7 linked regions of the Homo sapiens genome follow. The protein of the gene in region 5 purifies or fractionates together with the protein of the main gene of each other region. This does not show direct contact. Each region holds a gene or a part of one and is shown on either strand. Other genes may lie near its edges.

Region 1 (2,846 bases), on a different chromosome or scaffold from region 5:
GGACCGACTTTGTTAAAGCACTGAACTAGCTTCCTTGGAGCCCCAAAGGGAGGGGCGGGACCTTCACTTCAGAAATAAGAAGACAGACTCAGAGAGGGTTTGTGGCTTTCCCAAAGATACCTCATTCCAGGATTTGAACCCCAGTCTCTCACTCGAGACCCCAGGTACTTGCTGTGGCCCATACCTTCCCCAAATTATCCACCAACAGCCAGTCAACCTGGGGCAGGGCTGTGGGGGAGAAACATTTGTTTACTAAATCACAGAGTCCCTCTGCCCGCTGGAGGGGAGAGGAGAATGCCACCAAGTGGGCGGGGGTGGGGCATTGCATCCCAGCATTTGAATGGGCAGGGAGGAAATGGGGCACAGGACTTCTAGAACTTGCAGTTTTGCTCATTCGGGCTGTCTAGGGAGGTGGTGACAGGGAGAGACTAAACTGAAATGTGCCTGTGACTTCCATCTCAGGAAGATGGAACATGTTCAACCCCAAGCCATGTTCGGGGTCTGTGGCAAGCAGGAATTCTCCTTTATTTTCCAATAGGGTTAACAATCTTTCCCAGGAAGAGCACGGAAGGTATTTTCTCGCTGTAAATCAGCAGCAGATAGGGTTTGTCTATCTTGACGACGAGTGGTGTCTCCATGGGCAGAGTCTGTGCTCCGGTGCCAGCGGCCCCTTCCGTACCCCTCTCATCCATCTTCAGCTCAGCCTTGTGCACAGCCTACGGAAGCCAAGGGCAAAGTCAAGGTCTGCCAAGCTCCTTGGCGACCACAGTGGGCCGGAGGCCCAGAGAGGATCAGAGAGGAAGACCACTTGGCCCAAGCCATCCAGCACAGCAGTAACTTGGTTTACTCCAGGGTTCCTGGCTCTTTCGCCATTAATGCTGGAGAATATTCGACAAGCAGATGCCGTGTGAAGGAAAAGATGGTGCAGGGGGAGCATCAGTTACGGGAGTCGGTGGGGGGAGAGATGGAGTGGGGTTTGCTTCTCTTTCTCATGGGTTACAGGGAAGCATCAACCATAGCCGTGGCAGAAAGGTCTACTGGGCTGTAGCTGGGTGAAAGTGAGGTGGTGGTACCCCCACCCTGAAGCCTCCAGCACCTCCTTTCATCCACCTGGTGGATGGTTAAGAGGGAGAAGGATTCTGGATTAGCTCTTTGAGATGACTTGCATCCCAAATCCACTCCAAAGGCATCAACGTCTGTAAACAGGTGATCAGTACTGGGAAACTAACGGGCATGTGTGAAATCCTGGCACATTTCTTGCTAGCCTACAAAATTCTCACAATTTTACTTGCAGAAAACAGGACAGTATCCTGTGTTACAATCACAGCTATCAGCAAACGTAACTACAGAAAGAAATGAGCCATTAAACTCAACAAGACCTTCAGAGCTGGTGTTAAATGTTTGTGGGAAGTCTGTGGCAGGAAAGCTCAAAAGTGAGAAAATTCTAGTAACTATGTTTCTTATGTCAACGTGAAAAATACAGTGGAATCTGTGCCATCTGATTCAGAGCAGCGGGCTCAGCTTGGCAAGCTGGATCCTTCCCAGACTGGCTTGAACCTCCCACTTTATCTCCACTAAGCACCCAATCCCCACCACCCACTACTCCATGATATCCAAAAACCCCCAGCCTTGGCCACACTGCTGCACCCATCCCCGCACCCATCTCTGCTTGTTGAAATCTTTCCCCTCCTTCAATGCCTTTTTAACCCCAAAGTAGGGTTGCCAGGTGAAATACAGGACATCCACTGAAATTTGAATTCAAGATAAACAATGAATATGTTTTAGTGTAAGTGTGTCCCGTGAAATATTCTGAACATACTGGCACTAAAAATATTATTCATCATTTATCTAAAATTCAAATTTAATTGGGTATCCTGTATGAAATCTGCTAAATCCGGTGACTCTACCTATATGGTGCTCTCTTCTTGCCCCAGACAGTCAGGTGCTCACCTTTGCCAGGGGCCACAGGCCCCTTTGCTTGGTCATCTCTTCCTATGCAGCATATGCTTATGCCAACTCATATGAAACATGTGGCCTTGGGCGCGGTGGCTCACGCCTGTAATCCCAGCACTTTGGGAGGCCAAGGTGGGTGGATGACCTGAGGTCAGGAGTTTGAGACCAGCCTGGCCAACATGGTGAAACCCTGTCTCTACTAAAAATACAAAAAAATTAGCCGGGCATGGTGGCGGGCGCCTGTAATCCCAGCTACTCGGGAGGCTGAGGCAGGAGAATTGCTTGAACCTGGGAGGTGGAGGTTGCAGTGAGCTGAGATCGCACCACTGTACTCCAGCCTGGGTGACAGTGCAAGACTCCTTCAAAAAACAAAATAAAAGAAAGAAAGGAAGGAAGGAAGGAAGAGAGAGAGAGAGAGAGAAAGAAAGAAAGAAAGAAAAAAAGAGAGAGAGAGACAGAGAAAGAAAAAGAAAGAAAGAGAGAAAGAGAGAGAGAAAGAGGAAAGAAAGAGAGAGAGAAAGAGAGAAAGAAAGAGAAAGAAAGAAAGAAAAGAAAGAAAGAAAGACGGATGTGGCCTTTGAGAGAGGGTCTGGGTTAGACCTAGACCAGTTCTAGGCCTGATAACTGTTCCAGGCCTTGATCAACGTTTGCTACATTGAATTGATTTCCAAAATAGCAGCAGTTTTAAAGACTGGAAGCATGAGGCTGGGGGAGGTTATGTGGTTTGCCCAGGATCACGGGGTTGGTAAGGGGCACAGCTGCATTCATGCCCGCCCCGACTGGTGGGTGGAGTCTCGGCTCTGACAGCCACTGTGACCCTGGCTCTGGCCCCGGCTGGGGGAAGGCCCCTGTGCTGCAGGGAGTGGAGTCCAGGCTAGGCAGGCTTACCTCGC
Region 2 (3,500 bases), about 59 Mb from region 5:
GAGTCACTTGAGAAGTGTAATGCCAAAGCATTAGAAATAATTTTGAAACTGAATGAAAAATATCTTTCCTGACTTGCCAGTTCTAGAAAGATTTTTGCAATGGTGAAAGAAAGGAGAGAGATGATTTGCAAATGTTCAGTCCTAGAAATTAGAGTTGGAGAAGACCTGGGACTGATCGTGGGCATATGTGACAACTTTTGAAGTAGTCTTTATTTTTCTTTCTCCATTTTTTCCCCTGTCCTTTAAGAATTATCTCCAATTCCTCACTTCATACATGAAGCTTTCCCCCATGACCCTGGCTTGTACTGATCTGTTTCCTTCCTAACCACTCATGGAGCTTGGGGTCTTTATCATGAACTTGGACACTGCATTTTCTTCCCTCTGCATTGCCCTCTAATTGCTTGATGTACATTAGTCATGTCTGCAACTGCAGTAAAACACCCTGATGATAGATAAGAAGTTTTGGCGTATATTCAATAATCCCCCTTCCCTGCACGGAACTTTGTCATTGACAATATCCTATGGAGGATCCAGTACAGGGCAGGCATTCAAAATCATTGAAGTAAAAGCTAATCACCTTATCAACTGAGTTGTTCTGGTTGTTTTATCTTTGAATAAGGGGAATGGGCAAAAATCTGGGGAACAAGATGGTGGGTGCCAAAGTTTCAGTAATGTGAAAACATTTGGAAACCAAAGTTAGGCACATCCTTATGCACAAGGACGAGATCGAAAATGAATTGAAATCATTTTGCTGAGACTCTATAGCCCTCAGATGGTGCAAATTAACTTTTATGCTTGGTACCTATGCTTGATTATAGGGTTCAAAAATATAATTGAGTCTATAATCACTAATGTTTCCTAGAAAGTATAGGATTTAGGAGTTAGATTCTATTTAGAAATACTTTCTCCAGATAAATATACTTCTCCTCCTCCTTGGAGTAAATGGGGACACTGGGCTCCTTTGAGTTGCCTGGGGATGGTGTCAGTATTTTGATCTATTTATACCAGTCCTGCTCAGGCTCATAAAGTCCTTAATTAAGGTGTGTGTTTGGTGGTAAAGCCTGATCCTTAATGGAAGTAGGGTGGGGTCATCTTATTTAAAGCCACAGTTCTCACCATAGACCTCATTAGGCCATCAACACACATTCAGCCTTTTTCTTCCCAGTGAAATGCAGGGTTTTCATGGACGCTAACTCATGGGTGGAACTGCGCTTGAACATAAGTGAGGCTAGCCACTGCTCAAACCCCATTTTTGTAGAGTCTGTTAGTTGACCCAGCCACATCACTGCATCAGCCCAGTGTATGGCAAGGGGCTTTGAGTATTCTAAGAAGCAGGCCCTAGGATAGGTGTGAGAGAGAACTCACACATCTATCTGAAAGAAGGACCAACTGAGGGGAAGCAGGGAGGAGACAGAGGTTTTTGTGAGCTTTGAAATAAAGAAAAGAATATCATCTGGTAAGTGCATGGTCTAAACAAATGGTAACTTTCAAATCTCAACTTCTGTCTTATCAGCACCAAAAATATTTTGTTTGGACTGATGCCATATGAATCTCTGGGAACTGCTGTTCTACCCTATATCAGTAAGTGATTGTTTCTGGCTGCCACTAGAGACTGGAGTATAATGTCTTTAACAAATTAGGATTTTGTATTCATTTGTAGAAGAATCCAGAAGTGGGCAGTCCAAGGCTGGTGGGATAGATGGTATAACAAGATATCAGGGGCTTTCTGTATTTCTGATCCACCATCCTTAGCCTATGTGCTTTAAACCCTTTGTGGTTTCCCTCCTCAAGCACATTCATGGTCACAAGATTGCTGTTGGATCTCCAGCCATCGTGTCTACATTCCAGGAAGAAAGAGAGAAAGGCAAAAGGTAGAAGCAGAACAATTTTTGCTGCATCAGCCTTTCAAAGGGTTCTCATTGAAACCCTACCCAACCAATTTTACTTAAATCTCATTGGATACTCATAGCCACAAAGAGGACTTGAAAAAATATAACGTTTCAGCTGTGTACTTTTCTGCCTGAATAAAGATAGAATTTACCTCTGACACTAAGAAAGAAGGGGAGCATGAATATTGCAAGGCAGCTGGCAGTCCCTGCTCCCCTCCCCTACCTCAGTTCTCTCCTGTTTTCCATGATTCACAGGCATCCTCTTAGTCCCCATCTTGCTTTTCCCACCTCCATATGATGGACCCCCAAGGCCTGGTTAGCAGGATCTGAAAGATAACTCATTGACAGTATAATAAGTTAGCTAAGTGTCACTGAGTATTTACTATGCTCCAGGCATTGCTTTAAAAGGTTAGCACACCATGAAGTGGGGTGACCAATCTTCTGTCTCTGGGAGGGAGATCAGGTGGCATCGGGAGGATTTCTCCAGCCAAGTGTAGCCCAGCCTTGGTCTTAGGGAGATGCCAAGGCAGTCCAGTTTGCTGGTAAAGTATGGGGCTCTGGCATCAACTGTCACATTTAGAATTCTTGCCCCACTTTATGGGCAAGTAATTCAATCTCTCTTTGCCTCAGTTTTCTCATCAGTAAAATAGGGATAGTGACAGTACTTGCTTTGAGGGTGTATCAGTTTTCTGTGGCTGCTGTAACAAGTTACAAACTAGGTGGCTTCAAACAACAGCAATTTATTCTCCCCCAGTTTTGGAGGCCAGATGTCTGAACTGCATGTGTTGTCAGGGCCACAATGCCTCTGGAGGTTCTAAGGGAGGGGCCATTCCTTGACTCTTCCAGGTTCTGGTATCTGCCAGCATTCCTTGGCTGTGGCTGCATCACTCTGATCTCTGCCTCCATTTTCATATCGTCGTCTTCTCTCTGTGTGTCTAGCCTATCTTTGCCTCTTACTTATAAGGATGCTTTTGATGGTGTTTAGGGCCCACCCAGCTAATCCAGGATGATCTCCCCATCTCAAGATCCTTAACTTAATCACATCTGCAAAGACCCATTTTTCCAATAAGTTTCTGTGGATGAGGACTGCGGAGTTATCTTTGGGACTTAGGATCTGCACATACTCAGACACAGTGCCTGCCACTTGAGAGCACTTGATCAGCTCTCGTGGTAGCTCTGCCGTCTCACGGGGTTCTTTGGAGAGCAGGAGCCCTGGGGGAAAGACCTTGGCTGGTCACATTTTCCTCTTTTCTAACAAAGCTTTACGCTTTACCAGAAATAATCATAACTGTCATTGATTCAGCACCACTCTCCCAGTTGCTGTGTGTGTGGCTCTACACCTCTTCTCATTGAATCCTTATGATAGCTCTACCATGGTCACTGCTTTACAGCAGAGGAAACTGGTTCAGAGAGGTTAAGTCTCTTCCCCATTTCACAACCAGCAAGTGAGAGAGTTGGGATTCAAGCTCATTTTCATTCCCCCTCATCATGCCATTTGTTTTGAACACACCTTGTATATGAAGGGCTTCTGTGGAAATGAAGAGTGAAAAGGAAGGACCCAAGACATAGGTGGTGCCAGGGACCCAGAGTGAAAGAATGTATATAGAAGCA
Region 3 (3,500 bases), on a different chromosome or scaffold from region 5:
CAGCTACTGGGGAGGCTGAGGCAGGGGAATCGCTTGAACCCGGGAGGTGGAGATTGCAGTGAGCCAAGATGGTCCTGCTGCACTCCAGCCTGACCACAGAGCGAGACTCTGTCTCAAAAAAAAAAAAAAAAAAAAAAAAAAAAAAATACAAAAACTATAGCAATATGACAACAGCTGCCAGGTTGTATCAATTTATCCAGCTTGCATTTAGAAAAGGTTAGAGCTGAAAGGAAATTTAGTGATTATTTAATTGTTACTTCCCTCATTTTATGGACGAGGAAGATAAGGCTCAAAGAATTTTCCTTTCCTGAAGTCTCAGCTATGCCATTGGTTCCACATCATTTCATCCTCACCTGCTCTTCAGCTTGTGTCCCAGGAGATCAGGCTTCTGGTTCCAGATTGGACAACCTCTAGTTTTGTATACTTGGCCAAGTGATTTAACCTTATAAGCTTCAGAACAAGATGCAGATATTCTGTTATTAAAGGAACTAAGGTTTTGTCTTTAAATGTTGAGTGTGCATCAGTTTTGAGTGTCTAATTATGACTCCTCTTCAAAGGATTTGACAAATTTGTGAATATTTATGACCACCTTTTAGGGTAGTAATTTTCAGTTTGTACTAGTTAACCTGGCAGATAAAAAGGCATCCCTCTTTTACTAGCATTCTAGTGTTAGCATTCTTCATTGCTTTGTGTCAATGAAAGAAAAATGGGCAAAGAGCTGATGAACATGAAAAAAGTTCAGTCTACTTGTAAAGACATGCACATTGAAACAGAAGAGATGGTTTTGCCTTTCAAATTAGCAGTTTTTTTTCTTTTAAGAATTACAGTGCTGATGAAGGTATAATGAGGCAAGCACTTGCATAAGCTGTTGGTAGACTGTAAATTAATACCTTTCTGGAATGTACTTTGTGGGGTTTTCTTCTCCCATAATTTAAAAAATAGCTTTATTATAGTATAATTGACATACAGTAAACTGCATATATTTAAAGTGTACCGTTAGGTCAGTTTTGACGTACATACACACACACACACATCTGTGAAACCACAATCAAGATAATGAATATATCTATCACCTCTAAAAGGTTCCTGTCTTTGCTTTTTTCTCTGTCCCCTAAACAACCACTGATCTATGGCACACATAGAAAAAAATTAGGAAATATATTAAATGCTCATTTTGTGTGAGATATCCAAATATTTTTTTCAGAATCCCTAATGAAAAGGTTGATCTTGCTCTAGATACAAGATATAAAATTGTATTCTTGAAATAGCTACATGCAATTCTTTTTTATTATTTTTTAATTTTAATTTTTAGATTTTTAAAGATGGGGCCCTGCTATGTTACCCAGGCTAGCTTCAAACTCCTGGGCTCAAGGGATCCTCCTGCCTCAGCTTCTCAAGTAGATAGGACTGATTATAGGTACAGGCTACTGTGCCCAGCTCAATTCTTGATTGAGACATTTACCAGCTCTCCGAATTCTCAGTAGTTACCACTGAATAGAAACTTTCTTTACACAAAGCTGATTAAACAGTTTAGAACTTTTAAAAAACATTCAAAAATTGAAAATTTCATATATACATAGCCTAACAACTCTTCTTGTCATTGACAAAATGTGATGGTATTTTTTTTGTGATAATACACATGGACCTCAAATGCAATTGAACTATTCATATCAAGTATTTCCAAATAACAATGACATTCCAATTTATAGAATGTCATGTGTTGTGAGGGTAGTCACCCTGCAACTGGCTTGGACATCTCTAAGCAAATAGAAGTTTCTGTAAGATAGAGATTTGGGGCATCTACTTGGAACTACCTATGAGGAGCTGGCATTCCTCAAATCCCAACTGACTGCACTTTTCCATGAAATTACCCAGCAGTTATGATGGTCAGTGGCTCACTCAGCAGCAAGCCACTTAGGTAGCTGGCGAGGGACGTGGCACAGCCTTGTCTTCACACAGCACATCACAGCCAGGCAGCAAAGGACAGATCTCTCTCATACTCTTCATTCACAGGGCCTGAGAGGTGGACCATCAGACTCCACCCTGTTTTGCGCTGACTTGTAGGGAGACCTAGGTGTGGAGCTTCCTGGCCAGGAGGGCAGTGGCTGCCCAGAAGGCAGGAGATGGCTATCTCTTTTTTTTTCCTGAGACGGAGTCGTGGTCTGTCGCCCAGGCTGGAGTGCTGTGGCGTGATCTCAGCTCACTGCAAGCTCCGCCTCCTGGGTTCAAGCCATTCTCCTGCCTCAGCCTCCCGAGTAGCTGGGACTACAGGTGCCCACCTCCATGCCCGGCTAATTTTTGTATTTTTAGCAGAAACAGGGTTTCACCATGTTAGCCAGGATGGTCTCGATCTCCTGACCTTGCGATCTGCCCGCCTTTGGCCTTCCAAAGTGCTGGGATTATAGGCGTGAGCCACCACCCCCGGTCCAAGATGGCTATCTCTTAACACACTTGTAACCCATTTGTGCACACAGGTGTGCCGTGACTCACTGGTGGATCCAAAAAAAGCTGAAGCCTACATTTCCCAGAGCCCCTTTCAGCTTGAATTCCAAATGTGACTTAGCTTCCTCTATGCAGATGTACCTACTTGAAACTGGGAAGGCCAAATGAGATAGAGGTAATGTTTCTGCCAACAAACAGCCACAGAGCATTTTATTTTTCTAGAAGAGCAATAACAGAGACCCCAGGGTGTGGTGTGGCAGGACGAGGAGCATCCATTTTGCTGGTGGGGATTGTGGCTAAAATAATGTGGCTCTGGAGCCAGCAATGGGCAGCATCTTCATGACTTTCCAGCTTCCAGGCTGTAAGCAGAGATAGCATCTCTTCTGGACAGCCAGTTATGTGATAGTGTTCTGAGAGTCATTCCTGGAAGTCAGACTAAAGGCTGCTCCTTCAGCCTTTCCATTCATCTTGTAAGCAGGAGGCTTCTGTGCATGGCCAGAAACTAACAAAAGCACATTGTGTCTAAACTAGGTTGCAGTGGTTTCTGTTATCAGCAAGTAAATCCTGATTGATAAAGATACTACAATATATGCACATATATATGTTATAGAATCAATAAAAATTGGATACTTTGCTTTAAAAGTTTGTGAATTTTGCTTTTAAAGAATTTCCCTCAGGGCCGGGCACAGTGGCTCACACCTGTAATCCCAGCACTTTGGGAAGCCAAGGCAGAAGGATCGTTTGAGCCCAGGAGTTTGAGACCAGCCTGGCAACATGGCAAAACCCCACCTGTACAAAAAATAGAAAAATTAACTGGGTGTGGTGGCATGCACCTGTGGTCCCAACTACTCAGAAAGCTGGGGTGGGAGGATCGCCTGAGCCTAGGAGGTCGAAGCTGCAGTGGGCCAAGATTGTGCCACCGCACTCCAACCTGGATATCAGAGTGAAACCATGTCTCAAAAAAGAAAAAAGAATTTAAAAAGAATTTCACTCAGGGTTACAGACACTTAATGTTATTAAGACCCACTAGGAACACCTGTGTATACTGCTGGCTGGTT
Region 4 (3,500 bases), on a different chromosome or scaffold from region 5:
TTCTAGGCATAAGCCACAACATCCAGCCCTAAGTACTGTCTTATAACAAATATTTGGACTCTTAAGGTACAAGTTAACAGTCCTTGAAACCGTTAGAACAAACTTTTCAACATTACAGAAAATAACTTTGTATCTCCTTTAGCAAAAGCTCTGCCTCTCCTGTAACAGGTAGACTTGGACAGAAATTCACTTTTTAATGACAGAACAAAAAGACAAGAATAGATTTGACTTAAATTATTTTGGCAAATTCAATTTTTACTTCTAATTTTATTAAATATACATAGGAACTCAACTTCACAGTAAATGATATATAATAAGAATATATTTAAATTGTTATGGTGCCCTTCTTTCTTATCTTTCTAAACAAAGGCAAATTGGTTTTTTTTGAATTTTATTTATTTATTTTTATTTTATTTTATTTTATTTTATTATTATTATACTTTAAGTTTTAGGGTACATGTGCACAATGTGCAGGTTAGTTACATATGTATACATGTGCCATGCTGGTGTGCTGCACCCATTAACTCGTCATTTAGCATTAGGTATATCTCCTAATGCTATCCCTCCCCCCTCCCTCCACCCCACAACAGTCCCCAGAGTGTGATGTTCCCCTTCCTGTGTCCATGTGTTCTCATTGTTCAATTCCCACCTATGAGTGAGAACATGTGGTGTTTGGTTTTTTGTCCTTGGTGATAGTTTACTGAGAATGATGATTTCCAATTTCATCCATGTCCCTACAAAGGACATGAAGTCATCATTTTTTATGGCTGCATAGTATTCCATGGTGTATATGTGCCACATTTTCTTAATCCAGTCTATCATTGTTGGACATTTGGGTTGGTTCCAAGTTTTTGCTATTGTGAATAGTGCCGCAATAAACATACGTGTGCATGTGTCTTTATAGCAGCATGATTTATAGTCCTTTGGGTATATACCCAGTAATGGGATGGCAGGGTCAAATGGTATTTCTAGTTCTAGATCCCTGAGGAATCGCCACACTGACTTCCACAATGGTTGAACTAGTTTACAGTCCCACCAACAGTGTAAAAGTGTTCCTATTTCTCCACATCCTCTCCAGCACCTGTTGTTGCCTGACTTTTTAATGATTGCCATTCTAACTGGTGTGAGATGGTATCTCATTGTGGTTTTGATTTGCATTTTTCTGATAGCCAGTGATGGTGAGCATTTTTTCATGTGTTTTTTGGCTGCATAAATGTCTTCTTTTGAGAAGTGTCTGTTCATGTACTTCGCCCACTTTTTGATGGGGTTGTTTGTTTTTTTCTTGTAAATTTGTTTGAGTTCATTGTAGATTCTGGATATTAGCCCTTTGTCAGATGAGTAGGTTGCGAAAATTTTCTCCCATTTTGTAGGTTGCCTGTTCACTCTGATGGTAGTTTCTTTTGCTGTGCAGAAGCTCTTTAGTTTAATTAGACCCCATTTGTCAATTTTGGCTTAAGAAAGGCAAATTGTTAATCTAGATGTTCACATCTCCAGAGGCATTTGTGTCAGAAATGTTTTAAAATTCCTCTCAAAACAATAGACACTGGGGACTGTAAAAGGAAGGAGGGAGGGAGGAAGGTAGGGAGGCAAGGGTTGAAAACTACACATCAGGTACTGTGTTCACTATTTGGGTGAAGGATCAATAGAAGGCCAATCCTCAGCATCACACAATATGCCCACGTAACAAACCTGCACATGTACCCCCTGAATCTTAAAAAAAAAAAAAAAACTCTCAAGTTTCCTGCTTAAAAACCTGTCAGTTTTAATTCTGACATAGAGCATGGTATGACTACAGTGCCTGTAATCCCAGCACTTTGGGAGGCCAAGGAGAGAGGATCGCTTGAGCACAGGAGTTTGAGACTAGCTTGGGCAACATAGCAAAACCCCATCTCTACAAAAAGAGAAAATAAGCCAGTCCTGGTGATATGCACCTGTGGTTCCAGCTACTCAGGAGGCTGGGGTGGGAGGATAGTTTGAGCCCAGGTGTTGGTGCCTGCAGCGAGCTATGATCATGCCACTGCACTCCAGCCTGGACAACAGAGCAAGACCTTGTCTCTTAAAAAAAGGAAAAAAAAAGACTGCACATGTATTTAGGATCTATAAGAGATGAATTTCATAATATTTTGCATAGAGTTTTCAGATTACGTCCTGTGTTAATACAAAACAAAACAAAAGATCGGAGCAGAGTGGGCATGGGGAACTTCTGTCTGAGGAACAAATAATGGCAACAAGAGAGTTGGGGAGTTCTGTCTGTGGCCTTCTGCCTTTGGTTTAGTGATGTTTATTGCAGCAACCCAAGTAATATCTTCTCAGAGGATTCATGTGAGTTACACTTCTGCCTCCTAGGCACTTCCAGGGGCTCATACCCCTTCAGTCACTCAATGAAGCCTCACCTACATCCACGCCTGTACCACGGCTGCTATGGGGACATCATGACCATGAAGACCTCTGGGGCCACTTGTGATGCAAACAGTGTGATGAACTGCGGTAAGTGAAAAGCAGAGCAAATGACTGGCTTCCCCCTTTCATCGTTTTCAGATTCTTTCTTAGGAAGTCACTTAATTTTGAAAAGGTATAATCATCATTATGACAATAGTATCAAAATTAAAAATGAGCAAAAACCACAATCCTGACCAATCTAACAACCAGCTTCTTTTCATTTTCCACCCCCATTCTTTCCAAACTTTGTCCAGCTGTGTTTATTTCCATGTATTGAAACTACTGCTTGAATAAATATTAGACTCTGGCTTTGTTTTTTGGGTGGTGCTGCTGTGTTTGCTTCATGTTACACATGACCATTTGAAGCAATACTGTTCCAAAGTCGTCTTCATCACGTTATCCTGGTTTTAGAGTGTCGGAGCTGGCAGCAACCACAAGGTCACATCAGACCCCAACCCCTCAAATTTACAAATCAGAGCCCAAAGACTCAGCAAGGAGGGGAATACTTCCCAATAGAACAGAACCAACTAGTGGCGGAGCCAGGCTAAAACATGCATTGGCTAACTCCTAGTACAACAGGCTTCCCAGTGCACTAGTGTGGCAGAATTTTTTTTGTGTGTATGACAGAGTCTTGCTTTGTCACCCAGGCTGGAGTGCGATGGCATGATCTCGGCTCACTACAATCTCCACCTCCCAGGTTCAAGCGATTCTCCTGCCTCAGTCTCCTGAGTAGCTGGGGTTACAGGTGCCTGCCACCAAGTCCAGCTAATTTTTGTATTTTTAGTAGAGATGGGGTTTCACCATGTTGGCCAGGCTAGTCTTGAGCTCCTGACCTCAAGTGATCTGTCCACCTCGGCCTCCCAAAGTGCTGGGATTACAGGCATGAGCAATTTGAAGGAGAAACAGAGCAGAAGCGACACCTGTTGGGGGTTGTGGATCTGTTTGTTTCTGCAGTCAGAGATCAAAAGGATGTCTTAGAATGGTTGTCCCAAGTCATTAGCAGTGATCAGAGGCTGTGGCTAACTTAGCAAATTTTTAAAAATGGTTTTCTTCTGAAGTAG
Region 5 (3,500 bases):
CCAGCTTCTCTCATTTCATGAAAGGCAAGAAGCCCAGTTCCTCCACTAGAGCTCAGGATCTCCAAGCCCTCTCACCTTCTATAATTATTTCTCTCCTTCTCCCCGTGTCTCCTATTAGGAATCATTTCCTTTCTGGTAAGACTGTTGTCATCAGCTTTCAAGCCCTTCCACATCTTGCCCCTACAAATTTATCTTCCGCCACCCTCAGCACTTCCTCACTCTGCTCTAGCCAACTGATCTTCCGCCTGTGAAGTACTTGCTCACTTCAGAGCCTTCACACCTGCTGTTTCCTCTGCCTGGAGTACTTGCCTCTCTCAACACAAAACCTTGCACACACACACGTACTCATTCATCACACACTGGCTTAGTTCATGTCTTTTAGGTCCTAGATTAAATGCCACCTGCTCAGAGAGGCCTTCCTTGACTGCGTTAATCAAAGTTGATCCCTGCCGTTTTTCTCCAAGTCCCATGTTTCTTTCCTGCTTGGCACTTTTTACAGTTTATTTATGTATTCTGTTTACTTTTTAAAAACTCCTCCCCAGAGTGTGAATTCTTTTAGGTCAGGCCCTGGGAATTCAGGTCCAGTTTATAGCTGAATTCCCAGGGCCTAGAAGAGTGTTCAGCACATGGTAATGTTTCTGACCCACATCCCAGGGAACGATATCATCCACTCAGCTACTCAGCTGACCACACACTTGGGAGTCTTTGAAGCCTTCGTTTGTCTCCTTCAGTTTTCTCACCCCAAGTCCTTCATCTTCCAAATGCATCTTCACAGTCCCTTCCTTCCAGCTTCCTTTTTAAACTCTTTCAGCAGCCTCCCTGCTCTTCTGGGCTTTTGCTTTCTTGACCACTGCCTTTCAGCCTCTTTCGTTTACTGACACTGTGCAAATGTTTCCAAAACAGACTCTTATCACATATCTTACGTTTCAAACTCTTTGGTGGTTTTCAATCATCCATGAAATATAGGTCAAAGCCCTGTGCATAGCATAGAAGACCCTTTAGACTCAGCCTCCCTTTTACCTCCATCCTGCAGAACCTAATTTATAACCACTTCCAGCTACTAAGCATTCTTTCTGACTGAAATGCCCTTTCTCCTCTTCACCTACCCAGCATATACTCCCACCGTCCTTCATTAAGACAGATATAAGAAATACCAACATAGAACAGACTACTGGTGTTAATTCAGAAGTCTGGAGATCACTGATCCAGATTATTAATAGAAGGAGACTGATGCCCAGAAAGTATCACTGACTTGCCTTAGGGCACACAGCTAGTGGGGTCCAAGCTAAAAACAGGCTCCATGTCTTCTGATTTCTAGTCAACACTTGACTGATGAGGAGGAGGAGGGTTTTTAAGTGTGGTGAAGGTAGAAGAGAGAGCTGGGGCATTCAAGTAAAGAAAACCAAGATGCATAGAGAGACAAGTGCAACAAGTGTGCAGAATGAAACGAAGACCAAGGACAGAGAGAAAGTATGACTCATCTTTACTGTGCCTGCATTCAGTCCCTTCCTGAGCCCAGTGTCAGGAAAATAAGTGAAAGACTTTGAAACAAACAAAAAGAGTATTTACTGGGTATCTTGGAGTTATTATTATGCTATTTTACAACTCTCAGTTGTGGAATCCTGGCAGTTAACGCAGGTGATTGTTGTTCATGGAAATGCAAGTTGTGTTCAATGGAGATTCATTTTATTGTTAACCTGTGGACAGTATCCAGTTTTGCTAAGTCAGGATTCCTCGTTACTTATATTATGTATGTTTTGAATTCTCCTTTTGAATCAGTTGTAACATCTTACTAGTTTCCCCATTTATTGATGAGTTACTAATCTCATGCATGTTATTTTATACTTGTATGAGAGTCTTCCAGGAAAACCTGTATCTGAGGAATATATGCCTATATTTGCTTAAGTTGAAAGAAAAGATGGGGGAGGGGATTAGAGCCATTGTTGGCTGTGAGTAGTATCTCGGAGACAAGCCAGGCTGATTTCCTTAAAATAACTAGATTGAAAAATTGGAAAAATTAATACCAAATCAAAACTTGTTAGACATTAATGATTTTGATATATACAAAATGCTGTTAAATGTGTTTCCTCCTCACTGTAGAACCTCTACTATAAATAGTTGATTGTAATCAATCTTTAGATACACATTTCAAAATTATTATTATAACTGAAAACCAGATCTAACAATAATAGGAAAGTAATATTGACATTCAGGAGAGAACTAGATACCAATTGAACCTTTCCTTCTTGTCAATTCTTGTTAAAATATATGTTCTGGTAGTTACTTTCTTCTGGACAGTTTAAATGACTTCATTTTCACCAAGTATATCTCTGTTGGTGCCTGCTAAGTGATAATCTCTTTGAAATTTTAATTTTATGGGTCTCAAGGATTGAAAATGTATTAACAGCAGCTGCCTTGTCATTGTTATTGCTTTAGCTTGAAGCTGGCTAATTGCTGTAATATCGCAGCACTGGAAAAGACAAAAGAGAAAGGGGAGACCTGTAATAAAAGACCATTTTCTGTAATGTGTGCTATTTGCTGTGCAAATTGATGGTTTTAAGGGTTGGAAGACTGCAGGAGTCTTCCCATTAGCTGTACTTTAAAATGTAGTTAAAATATCACTTATATCCCTAAATAAGGAAGTAGCAAATTATACAGGCATAGGTAATTTGGGCTAGATTTCTTAAGGACGGATATAAGAAATACCAACATAGTTTTTCCTTAATAACTCCTGTAATATTCCCTTCCTGAGGAGATGTCACCCTAACTGCTGTTAGGGGGTTTTGGGCAAGAACTCTTTCTGGCTACTTCCTGCCGAAAAGGGACATCAAGTGGGGAACAACAGCTAGGGCTCCTCCTGGGGTTGATCTAAGGGTCCTCGGAAGAATGGCACGTCCACGTGTGGTTCGGTTTGCAGCACCATTTGGATTGATTGCTTCTAGGCAAGAGGAAATGATTTGAGTTATAGTATTGAGTATGCAAGGTCCAAATATTAATACAAGACATATAAGTAGGAGTGGACTTAATAAAGGAGCTAACCAATTCCATAAAGAAGACTAGAATTCATTAAAGAGGAATTGTAGCCACCCGGGGCTGAAGCCTGCGTGTTCTTGTAGCCTCTTAATGATTTTGATTTGATCTTTAGGTAGCTGTAGATTTTCCTCTGCTTTACTAGAGGTGTTAATCCAGAAGCAGCATGTTTCATTTATAAGTGCACAGGTACCTCCTACTTCAGCTGTGAGGACGTCTAAGCCCCGTCTATTCTGTGCTGCTACTGTGGTGAAAGAGTCTGTAGATTGCTGTCGTGCCTCTATGGTACCTACAGTTGCCTTCCACCCTTGTTGCATCATAATAGAAATAGTAAGTACTGATCTTTCAAGGAGAGGGAAGCCCGTAATCCAGACTAGACCTCTGGCTATAGAATTTCCCATTCATGGTTTTTCTAAGATGGGATTGTCATGTGCATGCCCTCCCCAGTCTGCTCTTTCAGTTAAATCTCC
Region 6 (3,500 bases), on a different chromosome or scaffold from region 5:
GAATTTCTTGCCTCACCTGACTAAAAAGTTGAGCAAGATAAGCTTCAGGTACAACCTGACCCAGACTGCAAATGATGTTGCTAGGACCTGGTTCCACCCATTTCTTGGCTCTGCTTCTTTTGCACTGACTCCAGTCTCTAAGCTCTCTCCCCTGTGGGAGCCACATTGCTGCAGCCTCTCTTCACCTCCACCTAGGGTGAGGTCTGCTGGGAAAATAGGAGAGTTATTTCCAGTACCTCTCCCAAAAGTCCTAATGTACACTCCGACTTGGAGGACCTTATGGTGACCGCGTCATGGGGGACCACAAGATGCACCCAACCCTAAACCAATCACTGCGCCCAGGGGAATGTGAAGGTGTGATTGGCTCAGGCTGGGCTGTGTGCTCTGCCCAGACCAATGGACACAGTGTGGGGGAGGCATAGGTCCCCAGAGGGAAATCTGCAGCTGTTGGGAACAAGGAGAGAAGATGTTAGCATGTGTGGGGAAGAATATTTATCCTCTGTGTGATCATTCTTAGCAAAGAGTAGTTCAAATTATTTGTGGAGCTGCTTGGAGGCTGGGGTGAAATGGGTTCAGCCAGTGTCTGGAAACCTCACAAAGTCATTTTCTAAGTAAGCACTCAGGGTGAAGAGAGCTTGTAGCATCTTTAGTGTGGTCCATGAAAGAATATGTATAAAGGCAAACTCCTCCGAAAACCTTGTCCAAAAGCTAGTATTGTACTAAAGAATAGTAAGGATTGGGTTTATAAAATATCTTAGGCCAATTCACCTGTAGTCCACACCATAATTTCAGAGGAAAATTTTCAGGCAGTGGTCAACTACATTTAGATAAACGTTTTCCCAAGTGGTTATACTAGAATTTTTGCTTCAGTTGCCCAGTGTTTATTGGGATTCAGAGATGAGACACTCTCCAGGAAACTAGCAGGGAAGATGTGAAAGCAAATACACCACCACATGAAGAATCTTGCTATAATGGACATGCATACAAAACAAAGCAGCAATGCAGACTTCATTCTGCTGTCACAGAAGCCTTACAGAGGTGACAGTTAATGCCTTAGTGAGTTTTGAAGGATGAATAGGAGTACACCAAAAGGGAAAGAGATGGCGGATGTTTCACACAAGAGGAAGGGTGTGAGCAACGTTTTAGTGACCTGACATAGCATTGTATGCTTTTGGAGGCAGTGCAGATTCAGGCTTGTATTCCAGCAGTCCCTCTAATCATGTTGTATAGCTCTCCAAACTTGTTTATCCATTTATAAAGTACAATTCCTCTCTCATGGATTGTTAGGAGAATTAAACAGAAATGCAAAGTACTCAGCTCTGCTACAGTAAGAGCTGAACAAACCTTTGCCATTGCCATTATAGTCTGGCAGGAGTGCTGTGGGTGATGATTGAGGAGGGGAGAGATTAGGAGTCAGATCATGAAATGCTTTGATTGCTATAGTAGGGAGCATGGCTCTTATCCTAAAGGCATTAGAGAGCCTTGTAAATGGCTCTGAAATGAAGGATCAGATTTGTGTCACCGTGGGAAGGATAAAAAGTCCACCTGGGGGACTACTGCAGAAACCCAGTGAAGGAACGATAAAGACATGAAGTTGTAAGTCCTGATGGTTCTGGTGGTGGGGGGTGGCTATGTGACAGACAGAAGAGATATTTAGGAGTAGTCCTAGAGCATCGCTGGGTACAAACTCAGCCAGTTGCTGTGACTGACCAAACAGGCCCCTGGCTTGTAACCCCTAGGACCAGGCCTGATACTTTATAGATTTTGTCCTGCTTAATTCTCCCAATAACAAAAACATTTTCCCAGGTGCCCAGCTCCAAAGCCTATGTCCTTCCTCACTGTGAAGGAGAGTGACAAAGCTGGATGGGTCCTTCCGTCTCCCATCCTACTCCATGCCTAGCAGGGTGCCCAGCACTGAATGGCAGCTAATATCTATTTGAGAAAACAATGAAAGCAAGTGCCTCATACCATTCCCCATGTCTGGGGTAACTTCTCCCACCCCACTGCCTGTGCAAGCCCTCCCCACCTCTCAGAACCCAGTCCCCAGCCCATCTCACCATGTCAGCTTGCTCCACATCCTCAGCCCACAAAGCTTTCCCTGGCGCCGAGGGGGCAGAGAGAGCCTCCTGGGCATCCTGAACGATTCCTTCGACCCTCAGCCCTGCTGCTGGTGGCCTCTGTGCCAGCTCTACGGTCAGAGGTCAGGGTGTGGCTTCCTAAGACATTACTGCTTTATGGACAGTCTGGCTTTGAGTTAGTGTGGCTCTTGTTGAGATCCCAAAATATAGTTTGGCTTTTCCCCTGCATCAGTTTTCTTTCCAGGAAACAGAAAATGGAGTTTCTCGGAGTCTGGGGTGAAGGGGACTGAAGTGATGCTGCCCCATTCTCACCAACCACCCACAAGGGTCCTGGCCCCAAGCGGGTGAATTCCTTGCCTGCCTGGACCATTCTCAAAGTCAGGGCAGCTTTGGCTTCCTCTCCATTTTCAAGTTTTCATACCTTATCAGGGCAGTCTGACTTTGAAGCATCATTTTCCCTGGAGTCCTCAGGGCTCTCAATGAAGCATGAATCCCCCTGTCCTGGGGTGAGGATGCAGATGAGGGCCTGGTGGGTGTGTGGTGTGGCCCTTCTCCCATTTATGTCATGAACTTTGGCAGACTTGTACTATTTGGGTGCTCTGTCCCCATCTCCACCCCTGTGGGTCAATGCAAACAGAACAACTCCTCACATTTGTGAGGGCCCCACGAGGTGCTTGTCTATGCCTTAGATTATTTGAGTGACAGTGGCCTTATGACTGAGGTAGGGGCAGTATTACTATTTTTAAATAATATTTTCTCCTGCATGTTTTTGTTTAAATGTGGGAACTCTAGGAAGTACATAGAAGAAAAAAAAAAGGGCTGTTTTCCCATCATGTTTGCTCTTCTGTACTCCCCCAGTGTCTACCCTGCTGTTAATCATCTTTGTTATTCTCCAGGACAGATATTTTTTGAGATGGAGTCTCACTCTGTTGCCCAGGCTGGAATGCAGTGGCGCGATCTTGGGTCACTGCAACCTCCCACTCCTGAGTTCAAGTGATTGTCATGCCTCAGCCTCCTGAGTAGCTGCGATTATAGGCACGCGCCACCACGCTCACCTAATTTTTGTATTTTTAGTAGAGACAAGGTGTCACCATGTTGGCCAGGCTGGTCTCAAACTCCTGACCTCAGGTGATTGGCCTGGCTTGGCATCCCAAAGTACTGGGATTACAGGCCTGAGCCACTATGCCCAAACTTTAGGAAAGATAGTATTATCTCCATTTTATAGACAATAAAAGTTTAAGCTCAAAGTCATATAACTAATAAGCGGCACAGTTATAAGGAGAATGTGCACAGTTCTTCTCATCACCAGTCTAATGCAATAGTAGGACTTCAATGCACAATTGTTGAATTCAGAAAGATAAATAAGACTATTTGTTTATTTATTTATTTATTTATTTATTTTGAGACAGCGTGTCATTCTGT
Region 7 (3,500 bases), on a different chromosome or scaffold from region 5:
ATATATGTACAGCCTTTTAAAATTGAGGTAAAATATCAAATGAACTAAAAACTTTGAGTATTTTTTTCTTTTGAGATTTTCTGTTTCCATTATTGATATACAGTGGGAATTAACAAATTTTGGAAAGATTCATACATGTGGCAATATAATTGATTATTTAAGCTATAATATAAATATAATTTTTGCCCCTCAAAAGGAAGAAGATTAACATTAGTGATATGCTAATTTTATTTATTTTCTTGCCTAGCTCGGTAGTTATTGAATGGGTTCCATTAAAATTTTCCAAAACAGTTTCCCTTTTTCTAAAGCAGGTAGCAAATATCATAGACAATTATGAAGGCAACTGGAAAATGGAGAAGAGGCATGTTTCAATAGAATTTGTCTTGCAATCTTGCATGTGGTACTTATTCCTGTGGATTTTATATATATATATATTATATATATTAGGATTTAGAAAGAAGAGATGTTTCTAGCTTCCTCACTAGACTGTAACATCCTCCAGCCTTAAATCCCACAGTTATAGTGAGGTTGCTGAAGAGTACTTTAAACATCATATACTCCAATATTTACTCTACCTTCTACAACATCCTCCAAAATGGCCAGGTGACATGGACCTTAGCATCTTTCTAAGTGGTCCAATCCATTGCTAAGGGGACTGATTATTGAAACCTTCTTATAAAGGACTGAGAGCTACTTCCCTAAAACTTTTACATATTGCTCTATTAACTTTTAAAGTAATGATCATCAAATAGGGGATATATAGTTGTCCCTCAATATCCATGAGAGATTGGTTCCAGGATCCCCTACAGATATCAAAATCTGTAGATGCTCAAGTCCCTTATCGGCATAATATTTGCATATAACCTATGCACATCTTACTGTATACTTTAAGTCATTTCTAGCTTACAATAACTAATTCAATGTAAATTCTAAGTACGTGTCATACCGTCTTGTTTAGGAGGTAATAACAGTAAAAAAAAAAAAAAGTCTGTACATGTTCAGTACAGAAATGATTTTTTTCCTGAATATTTTCAACCCATCATTGGTGGGGAACCCATGAATACCAAGGGCCAACTATATATTCCCTAGCACAGTTGCTCTCTACAGCAACAATTTTGTACCTTACGGGACATTTAGCAATGTCTAGAGACATTTTTGGTTTTCACAACCAGAGGGGTGGGTGTTATTGGCATCTAGTGGTTAGAGAACTAGGATGCTTCTGAACATACTACGATGTGCAGGACAGTCTCCCATAACAAAGAATTATCCAGCCCCTAATAAGTAGTGTTGAGGTTGAAAAACTCTGCTAACAGAATGCTCTTGGGTTTTTTTCCTAATTATATACTCCTACACTGGTGCAAGAGATTCTAATAGTAAGCCACTGGTAGGGATCATAGGAATGTGTGATATCCTTCTGGTGAAATGAACAGAGAAATGTTTGAGGATTCTAGTTCTCAAATCATACAGATCTGACTTAAAACATTGTGAAAATGACAGCCTTTGACTTCTTATGATAAAATTATCTACCTGTCAAACTACTGAGGTATAAAAGTAGGCAAAACTAAATCTATGGCTATTAAATGAAGAAATGGTTATCCTTGTGGGATGGATACTGATTAAAAGGAAGCATAAGGAGAGATTCAAGGTCTTAATAATGTTCTGTTTCTTTATCTGGGAGATGGTTACATATGCATGTTCGGTTTGGGAAAATTCATTTATTTGAATACTTATAATATGTCCATTTCTTTCTACATGTTTATTGTACTTCAGTAAAAGCCTTAAAATGCTTAAGTGTACCGTGGTGAGCAATAGACAAATATACAAATATCAATCCAGTATTCTGCAGAACCTTTTGAAAAATATTTAAAAATTATGCTTCAGATGTATAGTTAATAAAATTAAACATCTAAACATCTGTTAAATAACTTCTAGAAACATCTTTTGGTTGAACAAGCTCAAATATTTGAGTCAACAAAAAAATTCAAAAAGTTTCTTTAGAGCTGAAGCCCTTCTTTAACTACAATCCAGCCATCAATCTTTTAAGTATGGTTGTTATCATCAATGAAAACAACCAATGTTTAGTAATCCCAAAGTAAAAATAACTGCATTTAAACTCTGAAATGTTGTTTTTGTTAGGTCATTAGTTAGCTGAAAATTACTTACTACTAATTATTAACCCATAGAATTTAAAATTGGCCACTCAAAGATAATTTGATGCCCAAAGTTAAGACTGAGAAGCAATTGCTGCCACTAACCCTAACCACATGTATCCCAGAGGTGGCAATATGAAGACCTGCCAAATAAAGTTTCTACAGAATAGTAGCCACTACTTCTCTCTCCATTAAAAATGTGCAGCAGTAAAAATCAAAATTGATATTTGAAGAATCTATAGATACTGATAGCAAGGTCAGAATATATTTAAATGCATTCACAGATGAAAATCCATATTTATTAAGAGACAATTGGACATATTTAAACTCTAAATATTACTAAGAAGGAAATCTACTTAATTGTCCTTCACTCTTGCTTAAAGTCATTTGAAACATACCATGAGTAAAGTAAGAAAGACAAATCATTGTTTCATTGAATATATATATATAAAAGAGTGCCACAAAAGTGCAATACATGTCCTTTGGTTTTATACATACCAATTTAAATAATTTTCCATAACTTTGCATATAGTAACAATGACTTTAATTATGAACCAGTTGTAAGATAACCTTTTTTTTTCTTTTCTAGCCATGAATGGATCCACTTTAAAGTATTACAACTCAAAGCCGTTTTTTTTTTGTGTGTGTGTCTCTGCATTAGTACTTTGTTATTTTTCCATCACTAAAGGCCAATCAGAATTTGGAACCATGCTGCTACCCAAGAAATCTAATGGAATGAATTAGTTCTGTAGATGACAATTTCTTCACCCATTTATGAGACCTAAATCTTTTCCATAACACTCATGTATTCAGTATAACAACATACTAACTGAAAGAGGGACCTGATTGTTTAAAGTTTGATTGCAGACACTGTAGAACATAACTCATTATGTTTCAGATAAGGTAACTCCTAGATATCAAACTAATTTGTTGGGGTAGAGATTTTACAAGTCATGCCATTAGAAGATTTTCTCTGATATTATATGTGCAGTTCAGTTACAAGATGAAATCATGTTTTTTTAACAAAAGAGATAAAATACAATTGAAGCAAAAAATAACAGCTAGTATATAATATATACAGTCTGTATTTGCTTTTCACAGTAGGCCTGATGACTAAAAGATATGCTTTATTACACGCTATTTTCACCTCTTGAAAGTCAAAGGTGATGATTAATTTCATTTAGCAGGGAAGTGGAATAATATCTTTTGAAATAACTAAGTCCACTAAATTATACAGTATGCTATTCTGGTTCTAAGTACATATTAGTCCCTTGGCAAATCTGTTCTTTCAAAGCATACCTTCCCCAAATGAGCCTACCTACTTCTTAAAAAACATATAACACAATGTGG

Evidence for each region.
Region 1: the proteins of APIP (region 5) and SERPINA12 purify together in Homo sapiens (affinity purification with mass spectrometry; one large-scale study listed by BioGRID and IntAct). This does not show direct contact.
Region 2: the proteins of APIP (region 5) and HEPHL1 purify together in Homo sapiens (affinity purification with mass spectrometry; 3 studies listed by BioGRID and IntAct, with this or other methods). This does not show direct contact.
Region 3: the proteins of APIP (region 5) and FASTKD2 purify together in Homo sapiens (affinity purification with mass spectrometry; 3 studies listed by BioGRID and IntAct, with this or other methods). This does not show direct contact.
Region 4: the proteins of APIP (region 5) and LYG2 purify together in Homo sapiens (affinity purification with mass spectrometry; 3 studies listed by BioGRID and IntAct, with this or other methods). This does not show direct contact.
Region 6: the proteins of APIP (region 5) and SDR9C7 purify together in Homo sapiens (affinity purification with mass spectrometry; one large-scale study listed by BioGRID and IntAct). This does not show direct contact.
Region 7: the proteins of APIP (region 5) and POF1B purify together in Homo sapiens (affinity purification with mass spectrometry; one large-scale study listed by BioGRID and IntAct). This does not show direct contact.

The regions. Positions count from the first base shown.
Region 1 is NC_000014.9:94,486,779-94,489,624, forward strand, and holds the end of SERPINA12 (serpin A12 precursor), read right to left. Parts: coding exon 2,842-2,846; intron 717-2,841; coding exon 525-716; 3' UTR 501-524; downstream 1-500. UniProt on the Homo sapiens protein: Adipokine that modulates insulin action by specifically inhibiting its target protease KLK7 in white adipose tissues.
Region 2 is NC_000011.10:94,024,354-94,027,853, forward strand, and holds part of HEPHL1 (ferroxidase HEPHL1 precursor), read left to right. Parts: intron 1-3,500. UniProt on the Homo sapiens protein: Is a copper-binding glycoprotein with ferroxidase activity. It oxidizes Fe(2+) to Fe(3+) without releasing radical oxygen species. May be involved in the regulation of intracellular iron content.
Region 3 is NC_000002.12:206,793,106-206,796,605, forward strand, and holds the end of FASTKD2 (FAST kinase domain-containing protein 2, mitochondrial), read left to right. Parts: 3' UTR 1-3,084; downstream 3,085-3,500. UniProt on the Homo sapiens protein: Plays an important role in assembly of the mitochondrial large ribosomal subunit.
Region 4 is NC_000002.12:99,245,667-99,249,166, reverse strand, and holds part of LYG2 (lysozyme g-like protein 2 precursor), read left to right. Parts: intron 1-2,346; coding exon 2,347-2,487; intron 2,488-3,500. UniProt on the Homo sapiens protein: May act as a potent antibacterial protein that may play a role in the innate immunity.
Region 5 is NC_000011.10:34,906,380-34,909,879, reverse strand, and holds part of APIP (methylthioribulose-1-phosphate dehydratase), read left to right. Parts: intron 1-3,500. UniProt on the Homo sapiens protein: Catalyzes the dehydration of methylthioribulose-1-phosphate (MTRu-1-P) into 2,3-diketo-5-methylthiopentyl-1-phosphate (DK-MTP-1-P).
Region 6 is NC_000012.12:56,924,409-56,927,908, reverse strand, and holds part of SDR9C7 (short-chain dehydrogenase/reductase family 9C member 7), read left to right. Parts: intron 1-3,500. UniProt on the Homo sapiens protein: Plays a crucial role in the formation of the epidermal permeability barrier.
Region 7 is NC_000023.11:85,278,666-85,282,165, reverse strand, and holds part of POF1B (protein POF1B), read left to right. Parts: exon of another isoform or gene 1-51; intron 52-2,739; coding exon 2,740-2,745; 3' UTR 2,746-3,500. UniProt on the Homo sapiens protein: Plays a key role in the organization of epithelial monolayers by regulating the actin cytoskeleton. May be involved in ovary development.